4 linked regions of the Homo sapiens genome follow. The protein of the gene in region 2 interacts with the protein of the main gene of each other region in a biochemical or structural test. Each region holds a gene or a part of one and is shown on either strand. Other genes may lie near its edges. The genes, in order: DOC2A, SCGN, MLF2 and DDAH2.

Region 1 (7,352 bases), on a different chromosome or scaffold from region 2:
GCCTGGGTGACAGAGCGAGACTCCATCTCAAAAACAAACAAACAAACAAACAAACAAAGAAATACCAAAATTTATTATTTTAATGTATTCTTTGGAACAGGTAACCTATGCATGTGGCACAAAATTCAAAAAATACAAAAGGATGTACGTTGAAAAGTAAGTCTTTCCTCTTCCTGCCCTGTCTCCCCAGAGGTCACCATAGTTATATTTTCTTCTGTGTATTTATTATTTTTTTATTATTATTTTTATTTTTTCACTCTCTCAGCTTGTCAAGAGACACAGTTACCATTCTTGTGCAGGCCTCCAGAAACAACATATGAACAACTAAGCAAACACGGCTAAGCTCTTTCCCTCTCAAATGGCAGTATTCCAAGCATGCTTCTCTGCACTTGCTTTTCTTTTTTGATTTTTTTTTCTTTTTTCTTTTTCTTCTGAGATGGAGTCTTGTTCTGTTGCCCAGGCTGGAGTGCAGTGGCATGATCTCGGCTCACTGCAACCTCCGCCTCCCAGGTTCAAGCAATTCTCCTGCCTCAGCCTCCCAAGATTACAGGTGCCCGCCAACATGCCCAGCTAATTTTTGTAATTTTAATAGAGACAGCGTTTCAGCATGTTGGCTAGGCTGATCTTGAACTCCTGACCTCGTGATCCTCCCGCCTCGGCCTCCCAAATTGCGGGGATTACAGGTGTAAGCCACCATGCCCAGCCTGCACTTTGCTTTTTTTTTCTTTGAGATGGAGTCTCGTTCTGTCGCCCAGGCTGGAGTGCAGTGGCGCAATCTCGGCTCACTGCAAGCTCTACCTCCTGGGTTCATGCCATTCTCCTGCCTCAGCCTCCCAAGCAGCTGGGACTACAGTTGCCCGCCTCCACGCCCAGCTAATTTTTTGTATTTTTAGTAGAGATGGGGTTTCACCGTGTTAGACAAGATGGTCTCGATCTCCTGACCTCGTGATCCACCCGCCTTGGCCTCCCAAAATGCTGGGATTACAGGCGTGAGCCATGGCGCCTGGCCTGCACTTGGCTTTTCTAAGTTAAAATGAAACTGTGAAATGATTCTAGGGCCAGGCACAGTGGCGCACGCCTGTAATCCCAGGACTTTGGGAGGCCGAAGCGGGAGGATTGCTTGAGTCCAGGAATTTGAGACCAGCTTGGGCAAAGTAGTGAGACCTTGTATATTTAAAAAAAAAAAAAAAGATGATTCTAAACAAGAGCAAAACAGCCTCTTGTGGCTGCACCCTATTTCACTGCATGGAATTACATCATGACTGATTTAACTGGTCCCCTGCTTCTGGGTATCTCAGTTGTTTCCAGTCTTTTGGAACGTGCTACATTTAAGAATTTTGAACTTCATGGCCAGGCGCGGTGGCTCACAGCTGTAATCCCAGCACTTTGGGAGACCGAAGCAGGCGGATCATGAGGTCAGGAGTTCAAGACCAGCGGGGCTAAGATGGTGAAACACCGTCTCTACTAAAAATACAAAAACTTAGCCAAGTGTGGGGCGTGCGCCCCTGTAATCCCAGCTACTTGGGAGGCTGAGGCAGGAGAATTGCTTGAACCCAGGAGGCAGAGGTTGCGGTGAGCCAAGATCGCACCATTGCACTCCAGCCTGGGCAACAAGAGTGAAAGTCTGTCTCAAAAAAAAAAAAAGAAAAAAAGAATTTGAACTTCTATTATTTGGCTTATGGGTTGGCATATCTGTAAGATAAAATCCTAAAAGTGGAATTTCTGGGTCTAAGGATTTTTTTTTTTTTTTTTTTTTTTTGAGACAGGGTCTCACTCTGTTACCCAGGCTGGAGTGCAGTGGAGTGATTATAGCTTACTGCAGCCTTGACCTTCTGGGCTCAAGAGATCCTCCCACCATCACGAGGTCAGGAGATCGAGACCATCTTGGCTAAGAAGGTGAAACCCCATCTCTATTAAAAATACAAAAAAATTAGTCAGGCGTGGAGGCGGGCACCTGTAGTCCCAGCTACCCGGGAGGCTGAGGCAGGAGAATGGCATGAACCTGGGAGGTGGAGCTTGCAGTGAGCCGAGATCACGCCACTGCACTCCAGCCTGGGCGACAGAGCGAGACTCCATCTCAAAAAAAAAAAAAAGAAAAGAAAAAAAAAGAAGAGAGATCCTCCCACCTCAGCCTCTTGAGTAGCTGGGACCACAGGCACACACCACTATGCCTGGATTTTTTTTTTTTTTTTTTTTTTTTTTTTGTAGAGACAGGGCCTCACCATGTTGCCCAGGCTGGTCTTGAACTTCTGAGCTCAAGGGATCAGTCCGTCTCAGCTTCCCCCCAGCCCAGACACTTTGGCTTTGCCCATTTTATGGGTAATAAGTGATATCTCAGGGTTTTTTGTTTGTTTGTTTGTTTGTTTGTTTTGAGACTGAGTTTTGCTCTTACAGCCCAGGCTGGAGTGCAGTGGCACGATCTCAGCTCACTGCAACCTCCGCCTCCCGGGTTCAAGCGATCCTCCTGCCTCAGCCTCCCAAGACACATACCACCACGCCCGGCATTTTTAGCAGAGATGGGGTTTCACCATGTTGGCCAGGCTAGTCTCAAACTCCTGACCTCAGGTGATCCACCCACCTCGGCCTCCCAAAGCGCTGGGATTACAGGCGTGAGCCACTGCGCCCCGCCCCCTCAGTGTTGTTGACTTTACATTTCTCTTACTTTTTTTTTTTTTTTTTTTTAAGAGACTGTGTCTCACTGTGTTGCCCAGGCTGGCTTCACTCAAGCGATCCTCTCGCCGCAGTCCCTGGAGTAGCTAGGATTACAGGCACCCGCCACCACTCTCGGCCCCATTTCTCTTATTTAAAAAAAAAAAAATTGCCGTGAAATACGCATATCGAAATGTACCATCTTCACCATTTTTAAGGGTAAGATTAGGTGGTGTTAGGTATGTTCAGTTGTCGTGCAACCAGATTGCTGTTTTAAATAACAGCACTTAGAGATGCCGACTTCGTGCCAGGCCCAGTTTGGGACATTAGGGACTCCCAGATGAATCAGCCGCTCCAGTGGAACTCCCTGCTGGTGGGGGAGGCACTGGCGAAGCGGTGCTGAGCCGAGTCCTGACGGCGCTGGAGCTGAGGGGCAGTGCGGGATGCCCCAGGAAGGCTCCTAGGAAGAGGGGACCCACGGTGACTTCCTAAGGAAGCGCGGTTCCCAGGTAGAGGAGCGCATGTGAGCCAAGATCCCTAGGCCTGAGCCGTCTAGGTGTGTCCCAGGAACTGCAGGAAACGGTTGGGTGAGTCAGTGGTGGGCAGCGAGGGTGATAAGCCCCTTCGTGTCTTCGGGATGGTAAGTTTGGGGCACAGGTGAGTGAAGACCGAAGGCCAGGGGTGGACTGACACTCCGTGGCAGGCGCAGGGCCGGGCAGGGGGGCGGCTTGGGGGTGGCAAGGTTTGGGTGAGAAATGGCAGCCCATGGGGAACTACCGCAGGGCTCTGAGACCTTCAGAGCCAAGCCCCGACGCCCCTTCCCACCTGCGGGGCAGAACTGGGGATGGCAGGGGGGAGGGTGGTTCCCAAAGGAGATACCATCCCTGGTAAGGGGACATGGGCCCCTGGGAGTTGGGTTGGGCCACAAGGAGAGAGGCCTGAACGGCCAAAGGGAGGGGGCGTGGGGGAAGCCGCAGCATCAGACCTCTGCCTCCTCCCTCAGATCGTGAGGCTCCCCAGCCTGGCTCGGGAGACCCCGAGATCCCCGGCCGGTGACAGCAGGCGACCCCCTGCTCCTGTCAACCTGTGGGTCCCTACGGACGTGGGGAAGGGAGGAGGGAGGCCCCAGCTCCCTGCGGGGGAGGGGCGTGAAGACGCGCGGGGGTGGGGGGAGATGAGCCGGCGTCGCCATGACAACGAGGCCGGTGGTCCGGCCTTGGGGACCCGGGAGGGAGGGAGGCGCCGTGGCCGCGCGCGCGGGCGGGGGCGGGGGGCCAGGTCTCCCAGGAGTAGTTGGGGAACACCCGGCGATTCTGGCGGCTGCTTCCTGGTGGCGCAGGGAGCCCGCGTGTTTGCGAGTGCGTGTGTGTGCGAAGTTCTCCGGGTAAGTGTGCCAGCGCGCGCCTGGGTGTGTGCAAGGGTGTGAGCGTGCACACGTGGGCACGGGCGTGTGCGCGCGGGGGTGCCCGGTTGGATGTGTGCACACGAGTGTGTGCCGGTCCGCGTGCCCCTGCGTGAGTGTGCGCGCGCGAGCACACGTGTGTGTGCGCGCTCGCGTGCGCTCCCGAGCGGGCCCCGGGTGGGAGTCCGAGATCCCGCCCCCTCCCCAGCCCCAGCGCCCCTCCCCGTCCCCCGCCGCCGCGCCGGCTGCATCCTCGCCTCCACCTCGCTCACCCCCTCCTCCCCGCACTTTCTCGGCGCTCCCTCCCTCTCGGCTCGCACAGCTCGACTCCGCGCTCTCCTCGCCGGCCGCCGCCGCCCAGCCTGCGCCCGCCGTCCCCCCAGTGCCTGGGCACCTGTTGGAGGCAGAGGCAGGTGCAGGGGGCTGGGCAGGCCGGGGGCGTGAGGGTGCGGGGAAGCGTGCCAGCCTGTGTGCGCTACGGGGGTGTTCGGCTCTCCTGCGGCTGCAATTTCTGGCTCCCCTGAGGAGCCAGAGGTGGCATCTGAGGCTGGGGTCTCCACCGTGGGCTGTGGTGAGCGAGCGGGGGAACCAGGCAGGCAGACAGGTCCTGGGGCTGAATGAGGGGACAGTGGGCAGTTGGAGCCTAGAGGGGTGGGTGACACCCTGACTAGACCAGCGCCTGGTGCAGAGGAGGACAGAGCCTCCGAGAAACAGAGGCGGGGCCCTGCAGGGCCCCTTGGGGGACAGGCAGGCTCAGGAGCAGAGGGGAGCCCCGGAGGAGAGGAAGGAGCTGGCAAGATGATACAGGGACAACCTAGAAGTGGGTGGGTGAGGACGGGGTGGTGCAACCTCGACTTCTGCAAGGAGTGGGTTGGCAGCCCAGCCCCTGTGGAGTCAGCTTGGGGTCTGCAGGGCCCAGGCCTCCCACCTGCCACCGGCTGGCACACACCACCCTCTCCCTCGACACCTAGGAAGGGAGGCCAGTGAGGGCCCCACAGACCGAGGAGGCCGTCGCCTGGCCCTCAGCCAGGATGGCTAGGTATGATGGGCTCACTGGCTCACACGCCCTCTCCTAGCCAGGGGTGCTGCATGAGGGGCCGCAGGGGCGATCGCATGACCATCAACATCCAGGAGCACATGGCCATCAACGTGTGCCCCGGGCCCATCCGGCCCATCCGCCAGATCTCTGACTACTTCCCCCGGGGACCAGGACCTGAAGGGGGCGGCGGGGGCGGCGGGGAGGCCCCCGCCCATCTGGTCCCCCTGGCTCTGGCCCCCCCTGCAGCCCTCCTTGGGGCCACCACGCCTGAGGATGGTGCGGAGGTGGACAGCTATGACTCGGATGATGCCAGTGAGTCTGGGGGCTTGGAGGCCCCATGTGCTGGTGGGGGTCTCCAGGCTTGCCGTGGTGGGGGGAGAGGGGGATGGGCCCTGCTGGCTGTGCATGTAGGTAGGGGAGGAGGGCAGTGGGGGGGTGGCAGGGACGGCCACCACAGCTGCAGTCAGCGTGGAGATTACAGCTTCAGCAAGGCTCAATATTCAGTATTTCTGCTGAGACACTCCACCACCCACACAGCCCCAGTTGCGGCCGAGCCAGGGACCCAGACGCACACACGCATGGGCCCACTCAGCCTCTTGCACTCACACTCGCGGGCTGGCAAGAGAGAGAGACACACAGAGCCAGTGCCCACCTGCTGGCCTCTCGCACACACCTGTCTCCATACCGACCCATGCTGCCTTTCCTCTCTCTCCAGCCGCCCTAGGCACGCTGGAGTTTGACCTTCTCTACGACCGGGCCTCCTGCACTCTGCACTGTAGCATCCTCAGGGCCAAGGTGGGCACTCCCTGCCACCCAAGCCCGGGCCCGGTTTGCGTGCAGCCCCCAGAGGGGGCCCATTCCTCCTTCCCTTCCCAGGCCTGCTCCTTCGTCCTGCCCTTGCCCCCTCCTTCTGGGCTCCTCCAGGGTCCAGCTCTACAAGAGGGATGGAGAGAGGTGCCGGGAGCCTCTAGCCCTCTCCCCTGCCCTCCTCTCCAGGGCCTCAAGCCCATGGATTTCAATGGCCTCGCCGACCCCTACGTCAAGCTGCACTTGCTGCCTGGAGCCTGTAAGGTAACAGCCTCCTCTCGCCCCGCCCGGCCCAGCCCATGACTCCAGCCTGTGGGGCTGGAGGACAGGTATTGAGAACCTTTCATCCCCACATCCCAGGCCAATAAGCTAAAAACGAAGACTCAGAGGAACACACTGAATCCCGTGTGGAATGAGGACCTGACTTACAGCGGGATCACAGATGACGACATCACGCACAAGGTGCTCAGGTGAGGGCCCCCCTCCCCACCACCCAGCAGCAGCTCGGGGACAGCTGACATTGTAACCGCTGGTTGGTTGATCTATGTCCCATTAAGCCCGTACCTCTCTGATGCTCAAGAACCATCAGCGGCTCCCTAGCCCCTTTGGCAGCAGGCCAAAATTCTTCCCTGCCATTCCTGCCCCTCAATATCTCCTGCCTGCCAGGTGTGGTGGCTCACACCTGTAATCCCAGCACTTTGGGAGGCCGAGGTGGGCGGATCACTTGAGGTCAGGAGTTCAAGACCAGCCTGGCCAACTTGGTGAAACCCCCGTCTCTACTAAAAATACAAAAATTAGCCGGGCGTGGTGGCATGTACCTGTAAATCCCAGCTACTCGAGAGGCTGAGGCAGGAGGATCACTTGAACCCGGGAGGCAGAGGTTGCAGTGAGCCGAGATCGCACCACTGCACTCCAGCCTGGGTGATGGAGACTCCATCTCAAAAACAAAACAAAAGTATCTTCTGCCCCTCAAACAGAGGACTCCCTTCTTCCAACTGGCCAGTTCCACAACTCCTGAACTTTTCCTGTTGTTTTCTATCTGGAAAGCTCCTTCCTGCCAGCCTAAATTCCGCTCATCTGAGGTTCAGTCCAAGCTCTGCCCCCTCCCAAAAACGTTCCTGGGTTGCCGAGACCCCTTCTCAGAGCCCTTGGCTTAAGCCAGACCTCTGCAGCTTTGGTCTGCCCCTTCCGTGCCTTGAGTTCCCCTAAAATCTCTTAAGGAGTGAAGTCTTCAGGGACAGGGAACTTGCTCCGTCATCCTAGGAGATGGAGATGTAGGGAGAGTACTCCCTCAAGTCAGGTGGCGGGCAGCGAAACCCAGGCTCTGGAGAGACCTCTGCCTTTGTGCTTGGATTTGCAGCTGGGACCTTCCCTGATGGTCAGGGCTGTGCAGCAGAGAGGCCACCTTGGTTTCAGCTATTCGGGTGGAATGGAGGGGAGGCCAGAGGCCAAAAC
Region 2 (7,050 bases):
AGGGACCTGGAACTTCTCACCTTTTCAGAGGGCTCCTTGTTCTAGTCATTTATAAAAGGGAGGAGAAAAATTGCTGTCACTGTTGAAGCTGGAGTATCTAATATTCATTCATCGAGTTGGGGTCTGCACTAAGATGAGGATGCTGTGAGATATCTTCATCTGAGATTTTGGCTAACCTTAGAAGCATTGTTGCCATTGTGAGAGAAAAGAGGGATGTCATCTCTTGCAGCTTGGCTGTTTTTATCATTGCCCCTATCTCAGACCTGGTCCATGGACTAATGCTCTTACACAGGGGCAAGCATAATCCTCGAGGAAAGAGGACAGCAAAGGACTCACTGGTGTCCTGCGCAACTGCATTCAGTGCAAATATCTCTGAGGCTGGAACGGGGGTTGGAAGTTCTCATAATCCTTAACCTAGTGCAAATCAAATTTCAGTATGCCTGAGAATTATATTTTTTTGTTAAAATGCAGACCCCTAGGTCTCATCCTGTAGGTATTTAAATACATTTGGGGTCTGCCAAAGATCTTTCATTTTAAAAGCACTCAAAGTCAGTTAGCATGTTTTTTTACCCTTTTTTCCTCTAGGAACAGTGACTTTTGGAGAGGGGATTCTGATATAATTAGGCCAATCCCACTGAGCTGTGGCAATAGCCTCAGGCACATCTCATGAGCACTTGGCTGGGAAGAAAGCTTTTGGAGCCAGGATGATAAGTTTGAACTCTTAACTAGAAATGATATCATCTGCCATTGGATGCCTTTCAAAACGCTGAGGCATTACTCTGGGGAGTGTGTTTGCAGGGACTTTCACTGGGCACTCCATGCTACCTGGACAACCATGATTAAGGAAGCTATTCCTAATTTTGGGTTTTGTCTCTGATGAGTAATAAGTAGGCCTTAAGCAAGTTCTTAACAATAGGGCAGGACTTCCAAAATGGAAGGCCCTTCAGTTGAGGAACAGTCACCATTTGATTGTGACACCTGCTTTTGATTGGTAATGCCCAGTGAGTACAGAATCCAGCAGCAGGGAGGCCTCCACAATCAGGCAGCCCCTTGCTCTGGTGTTCAGCAGTGGTAAGCCAACCTTCAGAGGCATGAATAGCTCTACTTTCCTCTGATGATTAGCGGATCACAGAGATCTCAGAAGAAGGTATTTTGAGGTTTCTAACAGCAAGCTGCCTGCTAGTCTATCCAGGAGAGCAACCAGCCTGCTTGTAATTACCTATTCCTCAGAGCCTCGGAGGGGATTGACTTAATGGAACCATCAGCTGCAATTGCTGCTGTTTCTGTTACTCCCTGCAAACCTTTTCTTTCCAAATGCTGAGATTTTAGCCAGTTCATGGATAAACATCAGATTCTATGTGTACATACCCCTCACATACAGACTGTACCACATCCTGGGCCTCTTTCAATACTTCAGGGATTATAGTACCCTGCTGTAGCCTAGCGTCTCAGATAAGGACTGATGGGAAATTACAACAGAGGAAGCCCCAGTTTCTTTTGCTTTAGGTCAAAGGGATAGTCATGAGCTTTGGGGTTAGGGGTCTGAGAAGACAGAAGCCAAGATTCTGTGTCCTCAAACTAAAGGTAATGTAGAATCTGGCCACTGTTACTTTGACTTCACATTTATTTACTTTAAAATCTAATTTTTCACCAACATGACCTATGTTAGTTAACTTCCTTTGGGAATTCCCAGCCCATCATAAAGAATCATTTATTCATCCAATGGATCCTGTGTTCCAGAGATAAAGAAATGAATGTTATACTTGTGGAGTTCTTAATCTAAAAGATCAAGCTGAATTTCAAAGTGAAGTTCGACCCTGTTGAGTGATTTCCATTGTGCTTTTCCTGTATGGTACATGAACCCTCAAATGTAAGCACACACAAAATCTTTAGTGCTGAAACTAGACAGGTTAATCCCACCACGATTAGTGGGGTATCACATGAGGTAACCTGGTTGACAGAAGAACCTGGAGTCTCAAAGAACCTGTTCACCTTCCACAGAGAATAAAAAAAATGTACCTATTGTCTCTGAAGACCCACTCCAAAGAAGACTCATGGTCGGTGGGGAAAGGACAACTATGTGTGGAGGCAGAAATCCAATGCTCATTCCCTGTCTCTCCATCTAGAGCTGTGTGATAGCAACATGCCATTTAAACCTCCTGGGTCTCAATTTTCCTATCCATAAAATAATAATTATTAGAATAATGTTTTGGCCTGCCTGTTTCACAGTGAAGACCCATAAGATAACACAAGTGAAAGGTGCTTTTAGTTGCAAAAGCACCCAACATATATGTTCTTATGCTGACGCAATATCTTCTTGGGTCCTTAGTTTTCCCAGTGTTTATTCTATGCCCCACTTTGCCTCAGATCCACCAAGGGGTTATCCCACACAGGATCATTGAAGCTTACTCTCTTAAACACTGAAATGCTTTTAAGATTTTATATATATATATAATATATATATTACGTGTATATATATATGTGTATGTGTGTGTGTGCATATATATATGATTTCCAGTTTATGAGAGCAAGTTTTCCAAGCTAGGGTAGCCTTTGGAGGATGCCTTAAGTCATACTCACCACCACTCTTTGGTCCTTCATGAGTAAAGGAGGCTACTCAAAGGAAGACAGAAGACAGACTGTCACCTCAGGGACCTGTTAGACTTGCTCTGTCTTAGACAAATGATACAGGCATTATCTCTCATTTCTTCACTTGATGCTTTGGTTCCAAATCACTAATGTATTTTTTCACATTTTTAGTCTGGTGTGTGTTCATTTAGAAAGGTATCCTTTTTTTTTTTTTTTTTTTTTTTTTTTTTTTTTTTTTTTTTTTTTTTTTTTTTTGAGAGGGAGTGTCGCTTTGTTGCCCAGGCTGGAGTGCAGTGGTGCGATCTTGGCTCATTGCAACCTCCGCCTCACGGGTTCAAGCTATTCTCCTGCCTCAGCCTCCCGAGTAGCTGGGACTACAGGCACGTGCCACCACGGATGGCTAATTTTTTGTATTTTTAATGGAGACGGGGTTTCACCATGTTAGCCAGCATGGTCTCAATCTCCTGCCCTCGTGATCCACCCACCTGAGCCTCCCAAAGTGCTGGGATTACAGGCATGAGACACCATGCCCATCTGGTATTCATTTTTTTTTTTAACTAGACCCTTCACTGTTCCCCATTTATAATCACCATATGAGTATGTTTGGTTGATGTTGACAGAGTCAGACTGTCTAAGTCCTCTTATTTTAATCATTTTGGGTTTCTAAATACAGGACCAAAGCCAGAGGTATAGCAGATGACCTTGATATGGCTAGGATGCACAGATCCATTTGACTGATACATCATCTCAATCACAAATGCTACTGGTTTGGGTTTATAATTTTAAAGAATAGCTATACATATAGATGCTATTTTTTAGTTCTTGTTCATATAACTTTAATTTTTTCACAAAGAGACTCACCTTCACTGCAATTTATTTCAAATAAAGTTTATTCCTCATTATTTATTATCCATTTGGGAACTATACAAACCATTAATTCATTAACCTCTTTCTGTTGCATGCATTTCATCTATTTATCATCATTTGCAGCAAAAAAGCAACAAGTGAAAAAAAAGGAAGTACAATTCTATCTTTATACTTGCTGACAAAAGTTTGTGTATGATTGAACAGGGAAGAGGCAAACTACTGACTGACATGAAACTTGGCAGTTCCCTATATATCCAGTATCCACACCAATCCTGGAAGTTTAGAGAATCAGATATTAGAGGATCCAATAGCTTAAATCCTGTCAGCTCACAGCATCTTTTCTACCTCACTATTATAACCCGACATCAAACATTTGCTATGCACCCACCTCCTGCAATGAGTTGGTACGATGGATGACAATTATCAGGGGCTGAGGTCTAGCATAATGCCCAGGAACTTCCCTAGCATTAAAATTGTTTTTGCTGACCAAAGTGTTCCCTGGTTTTCTAAGAATATGCTTTCAAACCTTCAGGGTCTTATAATATCTAAAGCTTGTGGTTATCTAACTAGTTGCCAGAACCCATCCTGAAAAATCCCCAAAGCAAGTCATCAAGCTGTCCTTGCATTTTGTTTGAACCATCTAATTTATTAACGACTTAATGTTGGAATGCAATGACTCCATTAGGTGTTCTCTGCCTCATCTCAACCAACAACAAGGTGCGGTGGAAAGTGCACTAGACCAGATATCAAATATGCTGGTTTCAAGATTGTTCTGCCAGTATTCAGCTGCATCACCCTTCTGGCCTGTTTTCTCCATCAGTAAAATGAAAGGGTAGTGTCTCAGATTCTTAGAAAGGGTGCCAAACATCCTCTGATTTTTTTTCTTCTTTATTCTTTTGCTTCTAAATCACAAAGACTAATCTGAAGGAATCATACGTTTTGATTTATAGTTGCAGCAATGGATAAAATTATCATGAATTTGAGTATTAGTCTTCATATGTTAAGATCTGGAAGGTAGAGAGTTTGTACTACTTTTCTACTAGATTTTCTACTCACTGGAAAACATTTGCCATATGCTGTCTTCCCTGGGTTTTATGCCTGAGAGCAACATGTTGTGCCAGGCTAAAGTGTTTTAGGACGTTTTGTTCTAGGAAGGACTAAAACAGAGCATGGGTTGTTCTGGCAAGTTCTTTGCCATATGCAAGAGGTCAACTGAAAAGATGACAGCCTGATGGGAAGAGGTGAGGACTGACAGCCCCTCCGAGTCAAGACTACAAAAAAAACAGAAACATTTTCTCAGCCAGTGATGGGAAAATGATAAAGGAGAATTTCCATGTAAGAAGCTGGAGCACAAAAGAAAAAAACAAGGTCCCCAAAGAGGAAGAAGCTAGCAGGCCAGCAAGGAAGCCAGGGGCTAAAGGTTATAGTACATTTTTTTCTGCCTCCCAGGGCCGTTGTGAAGATCCAGGGAGATAATATTTGTTAAAGAGCATGGCTTAGTGCCCATCCTCTGGCTGGCAGTCCAAAAATGTTTATTCACCTGCTCTTCTTTCCTATTCTTAGCAACTGGATGTGGCAGCTGTTAATTCCCCACCACAATTCTCTTTCCACCGTCTCCTCTTTTCTTTGTAACCCATTAGGGAGAGGTCTCAGTGGAAAGGAAGGCTGGACAAAGATGCCTTCCACCAGCCTGTGATGGAGGGCAAAGACCAGGTCTCTTTTGCTGACTATAATATCACCAGGGGCCAGAATTGTGTTTGGCACATGGTAGGTGCTTGACAGAAAGCAGTCTTTTCTGGGTTTTATACCTGAAAGCAACATGTTGTGGTGGGCTAAAGTGTTTTAGGACATCTTGCACCTGGGTTGTTCTGGCAAGTTCTTCCTTATCTCAGGATGTTGCATTACCAGCACATGCTGGGGTTATTCTTGAGAAATACAAGTGAGAAAGGCAGAAGAACTGAGTTAGCCCAAGGCCACCCAGAGAACTGTCCTGTACACATGTGCATGGATGATGCATCCAGAGAGTGTGCTGAAGGCTGAGTCACCTCCACCCCCAACACCAACAGGGAGGATAATGAGTCAACAGGATTACCTCTTCTCAGCCCTTCTAACTTACAGCTGGAGGGCTTGGGACAAGAGACAGCATGATAGTATTAGGGAGAATGAGTTTAGCATAAATTTCAGCAAGTCTAGAATCTTACAATTGGGCACTGTTTGGGATTATCTATGCTTCTCAACCCTTGCATCAGAATTCATTCTTTATTGTTGGTTACATATGTCACTTTTACTGTAGTAACCATAAAATCCACCAAAGAAGACAATTAAGGTTCTACATAGAAGGGAGTTGTAACATCTTTGGTTAACTCGGCAATTACCTTATTACTTTGGTCTCCTCTTTAATTATTTCTCCCTTCTCATTATGTTTTTTTCCTCAGAGAATACAAAAGAAGATTAAAAATGAGTTACAGACACCTGGGGGCCCAGAAGAACTGGACTTTTCAGTTAAAAAATGTAAAATCTCTGAGTTATTGGGAAGAAAATCTGTAATTACAATACAGTCTTTTGTCACAACCAAATACAACACTGTTCAAATTTGTTCTTTCAGCACCCTAGTCTCTAAGCTTCTTTTCATCAATATTTTAGTAACTCATTAACTGTAAATTGTACCTAGTCAAGATTCTGATTAGTGCTTGGTTGCTCAAGAAATCTCCAGCATTGCTCTCTCTTCTACAAAAGGGTAAAATCACTTTAAATGGTCAAGGAACCTGCTTTCCATGTTTGAAAAACATAATTTTCACGCTGTATATTTTGAATATTTGCCATCCTAACTATATCTTTGAGATTCCAGTGGCTTTAATGTGGCTCTGTTTGGTCAATTGCAGGACACGGTCATGAAAGCAAATTTGCACAAGGTGAAACAGCAGTTTATGACTACCCAAGATGCCTCTAAAGATGGTCGCATTCGGATGAAAGAGGTAACTTTACTGACAGTATTTTTCATGGCTCTACTCTTCTTGACTGTTTTTTTCTTTACTTTATCGTCTTGGGCTGTAATATTCTTTGAAAGACAATGGAAACTTTACATTTGATCAGGAAATTAGAGATTTCTGAAAGGCAGTTGGCCTAGATAGCATTTTAAAAGTAATCACCTCTCCTTTTTCATCTACTTAGTAACAAAGAGTGTGCAATTCTTTTATCATTTTATTTAGGTCAATCAATATTTGTACCTGTTTTATAATTTGGGAATTGAAATGATAGAGGCCTTTCAATTACTTGATCTACTATTTGTCTCTTTATACAGTGTCCTGTTCAAATTGAACATTGATATAAGGAAAAACTTACTGATAATAAATAAGGTTAAACTTCAGCATCAGCTCCCAGTGCAGGTGGGAAAGATCTATCCCTAAGATTATTAAAAGCACGACAGACAATAGGTGTCTTTACTTCAACTCAACCCACTTTTATGGAGCACATACTAAAGCATGTAACTATACTACATGTGTAGGGCTGTGGGGATGGTCTACAACTTACCTGATCATTTCTCCTTCCAGTTACAAAAATGTTTACAGTTTAGAAAGGACTTCCACATATATT
Region 3 (2,646 bases), on a different chromosome or scaffold from region 2:
CCTGCTCAGGTTCCAGGTTAGTTTTCTTCTCTAGGCTCCTTCCCTGGGCTCAAATTCTCAACTACTGTGGGTGGAGGGTTTGTGGAACGCTGCAGACCAGAGTTCCTCCCCTCTGAAGGCCTGTGTAGGGTTATCTGAAGTGTTTCCACCCAGAGTGCAGGAAAGAAACTCTGTCCAAGGGGCAAGGGGCAGCAAGTTCCGCAGGCACCCATGAGAGATGCCCAACACATCCCTGAAGAGCAAAGTTACAGCAGAATGTGAGGGAAGAGCCAGCGAGAGAGGTGCTCATGTTCTCACGCCCCAGCCTAGCCCAGCCAAGTGCTCACGGCCTGCACCTGGCAGTGCTGATGGTCTGTCCGTACCAAGGAGATGTGGGCTTGAACTCTGAGGTACGAAGACTACAGGTGGAGACGAGGAAAAGTGAGAAGGTAACTTCAGAGGAGACAGCAGGGTTGAATTGAACAGGAAAAGATCAAAAGTACAGCCAGAATCCCACTTGGTCTTTTTTCCATTCTCCTTTATTCCATAAACACCTAGTTACAAGTTGCACAAATCAAAAAATAAAGGCAGAGAAGGGTGTAGGGAAGATTCTTTTGATGTGTGTGGGCAGGAGGAGGGAGAGAGTTAGGAACCAGTCTGCTCCTTCCACAGCCCTAGATAGGGCTACGGCCCCTCAGTGGGGGCTCTGAGGAAGAGGTGGGCAAAGATCCAGGGTAGCTGAGGGATGGAGGGGGCCCCTAAACCCAGAGCTCACCCCAAAATGCATTGACCCTTCAATGCATGGCAGGAGTAGGATGGGAAAGGTGAGGGGGTTTGAAGATGGAGTGGCAGAATGAAAAATCAAGTCAGTAGATGCAGAGGCGAAGTCATCAATGGTAAACCAGGAGATTAAAGAAGGAAAAGGTAGGGAAAGGGTGCCGTGAAAGGTTCTCCCTGAGACCCCCAGGGAGAGGTGGGGGCCGGCTTGCCTGTTAATTTAATATTAAATTGGGGATGGGAATCGAGAGGAAAAAGTTATTCAGGGGATGATTTCTCAGCCTCTCAGCCTGTACCTGGAGGGGGAAAGAGAGAGGAGCACAAGTCAAAAGGAAGAAAAAACTTACGTTAAGAGCCAGGAGTTGGGGTTTAATCCCCTATGTCAGTGAGAACATTGTTCTCTTTCCATGTCAACTTGTACTACCAAAGGCAGCTCCTGCGGGAGCCTGAACTGAGCCTGCCTTGCAGCCGAGGACCGTCCGCAGGTGCACCCCACCCTCCTTACTCCTGATACTTACAAGAGAGGCTGAGGGCCCGGGGCCCTCACCAGTCATAGCGGCGGGACTGTCGGGAAGGGGAGTCCTCAGGTCCCTGGATGGCCAGGCGGGGAGGCCCCTCCGCCCTTCGTCCCCCAGCCCCTGAGGACTCAAGCCGCCGAAACTCCAGGGGACGCTGCTGCCGGAATCGGGAGGTCTCCCGCCGCCACTCGTCATCAAACGCTGCGGCCTCACCTGGAAAGGACAGAGCGGACATGAGGCCTGTGTGCGGCCTGGCTCCTGGAGGCCGATGTGCGAGCGAGCCACAGCTTTTCGGGCCAAAGCGGCGAAGGCTGAGTGTGCGTGCAGGGATGGGTGGGGTGGCAATTCCCTTAGCTCTTTTGGTTTCTGCACGGTCCCAGGAAGCCACCGGTAGGCGTAAGGTGGCCTACTGGAGGAAGAAATCAGAATGGGATTATTCTTCAGTTCAGGTTCACAGTCCTATGTGCACACTAGGTACTTAATAATTGCGGATTTGAAAAAGATAAAGAGGGGAGAAAGAAACGGATCAAGGTGGAGAAGGGTGTAACACTATCAATACGGAACTTCAGGGACAAAGTAGGCCCCTCACAAAGACACCGCCAGCACCTGACTCCGCCCGAGCGGAGGAGGCTCCAAGTGCGGTAAGAATATGGGACTGACAGTTGGGTGCAGTGGCTCATGCCTGTAATCCCGGCACTTTGGGAGGCCAACGGTCGGTGGGTGGATCACAAGGTCAGGAGTTCGAGAACGGCCTGCCCAACATGGTGAAACCCTGTCTCTACTAAAAATACAGAAATTAGCTGGGCGTGGTGGCACATGCCTGTAGTTCCAGCTACACGGGAGGCTGAGGCAGGAGAATTGCTTAAACCCGGGAGGCGGAGGTTGCAGTGAGCTGAGATCGCGCCACTGCACTCCAGCCTGGGCACCTGGGCAACAAGAGCGAGACTCCATCTCAAAAAAAAAAAAAAAGGAATATGGGGCTGACCCAGAGCTTTGCCCCAGAAGTGTCTATGTGTTAGGGATGTCCACGGGAACCGGGTTAGGGGCTGCCAGCCAGGAAGCGGGAGGGAAGGCTCACTCTCATCCAGGTTGATATAGTCCTGCCGCTCCTCCTGGTCCCCCGTGCGATGGTTTCGGGAGCGCTGGAGGATGTGAGCCCTGTCCCGGATGTGATGCCCAATGGACATCTGCTCCAGTCCACTGTCTGAATCCCGAACAGTCCTCCGTGTCTCCCGGATCTGGGATGAGGCAGAACGTGGCACACTCAGCCGCCCCTTCCAAAGCCCTGCCTATACCATCTCAGGATAAACACACCACACACAACCCAATCCGGAAAAAAGCAGCCAGGGTTTCTGGCGGTGCCGCTCAATCC
Region 4 (6,774 bases), 6.1 Mb from region 2:
GCCCTAGGGCGCACCCCCTTTATTTCCCTCATAGAAACAGCCTTCTGTAAATTGTTCCATGACAACCTGTATTTCAATTTGTAAGAAATTTGCATGTACTGTGAGCTCCCCAACGTCAGGAGACTGACCCTTTTGATATCATTGCTAAGCCTCATTAAATGAATGAATGAAAATGAATGTCCCTGGAAGTGTCATTTCTTTTTCTTTATCAAATAGGGGTGGACTGGTAATCTACCAGTCTCTGAATCATCTAACATTTAGATAAATTCAGTGAGCAATCCACCCATACACTCTTTTCTCTGCCCTGGACACACTTCCCATGATAGAAATTCTGTCTTGTTCATCTTGTGCTCAAGTACCTATGACATGGTTGGGCAATGAGTTGATAAGTACCTAACAAGATTTTTGAATAAGAGGCCTTCTTCCCTGCACTGACCCCAAACTCAGGTTTCAGCCCTGCCCTATCCCTTTGCCCCAGTAAGACACCAGTCACAGCCCAGTCTAAAAGGTCAATTCTATTTTATTGGTTCTGAGAGGGAGGATTCACCCAGTGGATCCTTTTCCCTACACTCTCCCCTCCCCCAATATTGAGGCTCTCTCCCAACTACTGCCTATTCAGCATTCTCTATCTAACCCTCCTTCCCCTTCTACTTCCTATACTATCCTACCCCTGGCCAGCAGTACCCCAAGGCCAGGCCCTCAGCTGTGGGGGCGTGTGCTGAGCACCAAGCAGAGGGAGCTGAGCCCGGCGCCAGCCTTCTCCAGTTCTGAGCAGGACACAGGTACCAGGGTGACATCAGAGAGCTTCTGCAGTGCCTGCACAGGGAAGACATGGAGTGGGGAGAGGGGAGTGAGACCTCAGGCTGAGCCAGGCCACTCTTCCAGCCAGCTCAGAGTGGCCCCACCCAGGCTTCTAGAGAAGGTACCCTTCCTTCCTCCCACTAGGAAAGCCTGAAACTCTTTTCTCTGATGGTGCTTGGTGTTGGAGTTCCTGCCCTCTCTCACCTCCTGGCTGTTGGGCAGATCCCCACCTCCACGGTGCAGGAGGAAAGGGGGCACACCAGGCAACCCAGGACGAAGAAAGAGACAGTCAGCAGCTGCGTCATCTGGGAGGGTCAGGGAGGCATATGGGTGATCTGTCAGCACTGCCATTGCCTAGAGGAAAGAGGAAGTGTTCGAGTCTCAGAACCTCTCCACAGCTGTGTCTGCCTGCTCAACCACCACTAAGGGCTGGGGACGGACTGACATTTGTGGAAAATAATGACAGCAAGCACATAGAGCTTACGATATGTCAGACACTAAGTACTTTAGTTACCTTTGCTAATTTCCACCTTGGAATCACATGCAGTTATTTTCAACCCCCTACCTTCCCCAGCCCCTCCTATCTGTCCTACCCATCCTTAGAGTCACAGTTTAGGTGCCACCTTTGGGGTTTCCTGAAACTCCGGAAGAGCAAATTAATCACCCCTGTTCCCAGTCCTGCTGTTGTAACTTCTTATTTTCTCCTGTGTTCTTTCATGTAAGATGGACAGCCCATTGAGGGCAGGGGTTAGGGCTAATTTCCTAAGCCTCCCAGCTCCCGGCCTCCCGGGCCCAGAACTGCGCCCACTTTCGTTGGCCCCGCCCCCTCCTCACCCGGACAGCCTTTTGGGCAGCGTCGCTGCTGCCTGCCACAACAGTGCGAGGTCCCCCCATGCCGCAGAGACCGCGCAGGTGGGAGGGACCCGAGACTGGCACAGTGGAGACGGCGAAGTCCTAGGGAGAGCGAAGGGAGGTATTCAGGGGCGCGGGAGGGGTGATGGGGTATCTTCAAACATAGGCTGCTCTCTGCCTCTCATTTCCTCAGCGGGCGCCCAGGCCCTTCCGACCCCCACCTGCACCCCCTCCCTCCCTAGGCTGGTCCCGCTCCGCACCCGGAACGTGTCCGCCACGATCTCAGCTCCTCGGTGATTGGTCCATTTGGAGAGGCCTACGAAAAACTCCCGGCCTGAGTCCGGGAGGCCGCGGAGGTTTGAGGGCGGGAGTGAGTTAGAAACAAGGCTCCAGACGGCCGAGTCTCCCAAACTCTACTTCCCTGTGCCAAGACCTATGCCTCCCCCCAGCCTCACCGGTGAAGAGAACGTCAGTGCCATCCAGCGTCGCGTTCTCGTCTCCTATTTCCACAATTCGGAGCCCCAGGTCTTGCAGGGCTTTGCGGACTCCATCGACCTTAGGATAGGAGAAGAGGGCACGGAGCTGTGACACCCCCATCCTCAATTCTTCCCCAAAGCCCCGACATCCAGTTCCTTCTGCCTTTCCCCATACCACACCCGCGCCACGGCGCTCACCTCTGGCCTACGAGCGGGGCTCCAGGGCCGCGTGATTAGGGCCGTGTCCCCTTGGATCACGGCCGTGTCGCCAAGCAGCGGTCCCAGCGGCAATGACTCCTCAGGTGGCAGTTCTAGCAGCTGTAGCCCCAGTCGTTGCCTCAGTTTACCTCCCAGCACCCCGTGCTCCCTTTGAGCTTTGGCCAGATCCAGAGCGGGAAGGCCAGCCCCCGCACCTTCCCCCGACGCCAGGCTCTCTGGGACTCCCCGGATCAGGGCATGGGAGCAGCGGCCCAGCCCCTCCCCCGGCGTCCCCATCCCATCCACACAGACTCCCCCTCCAACCGCTCGGATTTCTTAGTTTTCTTGTTTCTTCACCTGTCTGGGAGAAGAAACAGAAAAGGAGGAGACAGAGAAAAAGACATGCAGACAAGGGCGTTGGGGGTGGTTAAGAGCGCCCAGGTCTTCCTCCTGCCATCTCTAGGCGTCCCTCCCACTCCGCCCCACCCACTCCAGACCTTCCGCTCCTGTCGACCTCACTCTACCCAGCACCCTCAGGGGTCAGATTCTTTAAGAGGAGCCTGAGGAACAAGGCTAGGGTCTCTAATCTCCAAAACACCTGTTGCCCCTGCTTGGGGGCTTGTGAGGTCCCTGTCGGGCGCCCCTCTTGGCAGCCACTAGGATGCGCTCACTCCCCAAAAATGCAGCAGCCCCGCCCCCTTAACCCTCAGCTGCTCGCTACCGCAGGGACTGGAAGTCCAGCCCGCGACCCGCAGGGGTTATGGGACAGAAGGAGAAAGCTGGAGAGGCAGGGGCTGGGGAATGGAAGTCCTGAATACCCGAACGAGAAGGGAGAGAGGTGGGTAGGAAGGGAGGAGTTCGAGCCTAAGGAGTTAAGCATCCTCTCTCCGCCCTGGCTGGTCACGCTGCCCCTAGCGCGACCTAGTATAAACCAGACCGAGTCCCGAAGGACTGGGAGAGGTCTAAAACGAAATGCGAGGGGCGGGGTAACAGGGGGCGTGGTTCCGGGGCGCTGGCACTACTCCCGGCTCCAGGACCCGGTTCCCCGTCTATGTCCCAAAGTCCACCCCGCCTAGCTCCGCGCCCAAATACCGGCTCCCCATACTCTCTGTCTGGTGCAGGCATGGGCCCGGCACCCCCAAACTCCGGCCCCCACACGGTTCAGGGCCCCCCACGCAAGACTCACCTCCAGCGGCCACCCCCACTCCTGTCGCGCTGTGATCTCGGCTGGGGCCCCACCCCCCGAGGACAGAGTTGGTGGAGAAGGGAGTCCCCGTCTTCAAGCCTCGGGGACTGGGAGCTCTGGCTTTTAGCGCGGGTCCTTGTGTAGGCGAGCTCATATACTACGATGGGGCAGGGGCGCGACGGTCTGGCGGCTCCGGGGCATTGTCTAAGCGGGACGGGGCGGGGCTTCTTCGGGCCACGCCCATTCCGCCCTGCTAAGCCTCGCCCATTACATCCAGACTGCGCCCCCCTTGCCAGAAATCGGCACCGCCCAGCGAGCGCTGCCCAGGCCCACCCAGATCTGGCCGGCCCTGGCGACGGGGCTGCAAACGCTTCGTAGACCTCAGAACAGCGCAACGGCGGACCGGCGGACCGGCACGAAACATAGCAGCCCCACCACAAACATTTCCCTTCTTAATTCCTGGCTTCTGCCCTGAGCTCAAGATCACTGACCCACCCCTCATTCCATGTCGCCCACACTTTAAATCCCCATTGCGTAAAAACACTTGATTTTTATTCTGTATTTTATTACTGAAATATGTTGTCCTACTCATCCCACCCCACAATAAAAATCTGACCCAGGCCCCCCATTTCTTTCCCTCATCCCCTCTTCCACCACACCATCCCGGAACAAGTGCTCCAGGATTCCCTGCCCACTGGCCATTTTGGAGTGTGTCCATTGGGTAGCAATGTGGAAACCACCAGGGCCTTTGTGGAGAAAATGGAGGGGGTTGAGGGAGTCCCAGGAGGGGCTTATTTGAGGGCCTTTGCCACTTGCTCATAGGCGAGCTCGATCTCCTCATCATCTGGACAGGTGGAAGCGAATTCTTCCCGGGCGTAGGCATTGCTCAAGTACCGATGCACTCCCCGGAAGGCCTCGGGGATGGTGAATCCCCGGTACTTCTTACACACCACCTGAGGATGGGGAGAGGAGAGGGACCAACATGTTAGACCCAGGGAAGCCACCTTGGCTTTCCCTTCTCCCCAGGCCGACATGATAAAACCAGCTCAACTCCTCACTGTCTTGTACTGTCGTTAGCCTTCCTTCTCACTTACTGAAATCCTGGCTTTTAATAACCAGCCATTTTTCCTGAGTTTTTAAAACTTGAGATATAATTTACTTATAAAATTCTCCTCTTGAATTTCCACAGTGACTTTTTCCCCCTATACCACTTCAGGCACTGACACAGGTGACTTTTGTCTCTATATTTTTCATCAGACTTTTTTTTTTTTGAGATGGAGTCTTGCTGTCACCCAGGCTGGAGTGCAATGGCGCGATCTTGGCTCACTGCAACCTCCGCCTCCCGGGTTCAAGTGATTCTCCTGCCTCAGCCTCCCAAATAGCTGTGATTACAGGTGCCCACCACCATGTGCGGCTAATTTTTGTAATTTTAGTAGAGATGGGGTTTCACCATGTTGGCCAGGCTGGTCTCGAACTCCTAACCTCAGGTGGTCCACCAGCCTTGGCCGCCCAAAGTGTTGGGATTATAGGCGTGAGCCACCACGCCCGGCCCATCTGACTTTTCATCATATATTCTTAACTTTCATGTGAATATTTTATTGTCTCAGATTTCAACCCTTTGAGAGCAAGGCCCAGTCACCATACACTTGTGTATCTTTCAATGCTTAGTACACAGATGTTCACTACATAGTTGTGTGGCAGACTGATGTCAGGCCCATGTTGCACAAACTAAACCATAGCTTTGAGACTATGACAAAAACATGGGAACCAGCAGTTTTGATCTTCCACAAGAGGAAGTGAAGACTGAAGTTATAAAGAAAGTTAAAGCTTTGACTTTAGGAAAAGCCTGCTCTGTCTAATCTGGGAATTTGGCAGTGATACCGAGACAGGAAGAGCATTCTTCAAAAGTAATACTGGGATGTATTCCTCTTTGCTAGTCTGTTTGCACCCATGACTTACATCATGGAATATAATTATCTCAAGCAGTGGTCTTGTTAGCAATGACTGCTGCAAAGGACTGGGGTGGGGTCTGCCATTGGTAGCAATTTATGAAAACCACCCTAAGAAAGAAATCGTCTTTAGAGTGGTTGTCAGGGGAAGCCCATGTGGGAGCTCCTTAAAGGGCCACTCCAGTGGTCATCCTCTCCTCCCGCAATAACCACACACCTGTACTATGTGTAACTTTGGCAACAGGTTGCAGTCAGCCAGGGTGAGCTCGTTGCCATCCAAAAACTTCCTCTGAGAGACACCTTCATCTTCAGCACTGGTTTCATCCACTTCTTCTGGGAGGGGGGATGTTAAGTAATTGTCTAAAACCTTCAGGGCTTTCAGGAGTCCCTTCTCCAGATCTGTGCAAGAGAGGGAACTGATTAGAACTTCAGGAAAAGATTGACATAGTCCGAAAAGGCCCGTTGGGGGTGGATACTAATGGTGAGTCCAAAATAATAATAGCTAACACTCATGTAGTTACTTTTCTATGTGTTATTCTAAGCACTTTACATTTTATTTTATGTTAGACGGAGTCTTGCTCCGTTGCCCAGGCTGGAGTGCAGTGGCATGATCCCGGCTCACTGCAACCTCTGCCTCCTAGATTCAAATGATTCTCCTGCCTCAGCCTCCTGAGTAGCTGGGATTACAGGTGCCTGCCACCACAACTGGCTAATTTTTGTATTTTTTTCAGTAGAGACCAGTCATGTTGGCCAGGCTGGTCTCCAACTCCTAACCTCAGGTGGTGCGCTAGCCTCGGCCTCCCAAAGTGAACACTTTACATTTTACAAACTCATTTATATCGCCGGGTGCAGTGGCTCACTCCTGTAATCCCAGCACTTTGGGAGGCCGAGGCAGGTGGATCACCTGAGGTCGGGAGTTCAAGACCAGCCTGGCCAACATGGTGAAACCCTGTCTCTACTAAAAATACAAAAATTAGCTGGGCGTGGTGATGCACGTCTGTAATCCCAGCTACTCAGGAGGCTGAGGCAGGAGAATTGCTTGAACCCGGCAGGCAGAGGTTGCAGTGAGCTGATTGCACCACTGCACTCCAGCCTGGGCGACAGAACGAGACTCCATCTCAAAAAAAAAGAAAAAAAAAAATTTATATCAACCCATGAAATAGGTATTGTCATCCTAATTTTGTGGATCTGGAAATGGACTTACAGAGAGGTGAAATGATTGCTCAAAATTATACGGCTAGTTGGATTTGTACTCAGGTAGTCTGGATCTAGAGTGATGACTGTTCTTAAGCATGACCCTATTCTGCCAGAA

The links.
Region 1: the proteins of SCGN (region 2) and DOC2A form a complex in vitro, tested with the Homo sapiens proteins (one study listed by BioGRID).
Region 3: the proteins of SCGN (region 2) and MLF2 form a complex in vitro, tested with the Homo sapiens proteins (one study listed by BioGRID).
Region 4: the proteins of SCGN (region 2) and DDAH2 form a complex in vitro, tested with the Homo sapiens proteins (one study listed by BioGRID).

Annotation. Positions count from the first base shown.
Region 1 is NC_000016.10:30,008,011-30,015,362, reverse strand, and holds the start of DOC2A (double C2-like domain-containing protein alpha), read left to right. Parts: upstream 1-4,335; 5' UTR 4,336-4,460; intron 4,461-5,127; 5' UTR 5,128-5,140; coding exon 5,141-5,402; intron 5,403-5,805; coding exon 5,806-5,885; intron 5,886-6,086; coding exon 6,087-6,161; intron 6,162-6,257; coding exon 6,258-6,367; intron 6,368-7,352. UniProt on the Homo sapiens protein: Calcium sensor which most probably regulates fusion of vesicles with membranes. Binds calcium and phospholipids. May be involved in calcium dependent neurotransmitter release through the interaction with UNC13A.
Region 2 is NC_000006.12:25,655,214-25,662,263, forward strand, and holds part of SCGN (secretagogin), read left to right. Parts: intron 1-6,338; coding exon 6,339-6,431; intron 6,432-7,050.
Region 3 is NC_000012.12:6,747,496-6,750,141, forward strand, and holds the end of MLF2 (myeloid leukemia factor 2), read right to left. Parts: intron 2,513-2,646; coding exon 2,353-2,512; intron 1,488-2,352; coding exon 1,300-1,487; 3' UTR 1,275-1,299; exon of another isoform or gene 1,053-1,274; 3' UTR 501-1,052; downstream 1-500.
Region 4 is NC_000006.12:31,726,538-31,733,311, forward strand, and holds DDAH2 (putative hydrolase DDAH2), read right to left. Parts: upstream 2,763-6,774; 5' UTR 2,625-2,762; coding exon 2,328-2,624; intron 2,209-2,327; coding exon 2,109-2,208; intron 1,988-2,108; coding exon 1,914-1,987; intron 1,756-1,913; coding exon 1,636-1,755; intron 1,156-1,635; coding exon 1,006-1,155; intron 817-1,005; coding exon 700-816; 3' UTR 503-699; downstream 1-502. Other genes in the region: CLIC1 (chloride intracellular channel protein 1), read right to left, coding at 4,305-4,466, 5,680-5,861. UniProt on the Homo sapiens protein: Putative hydrolase with unknown substrate. Does not hydrolyze N(G),N(G)-dimethyl-L-arginine (ADMA) which acts as an inhibitor of NOS.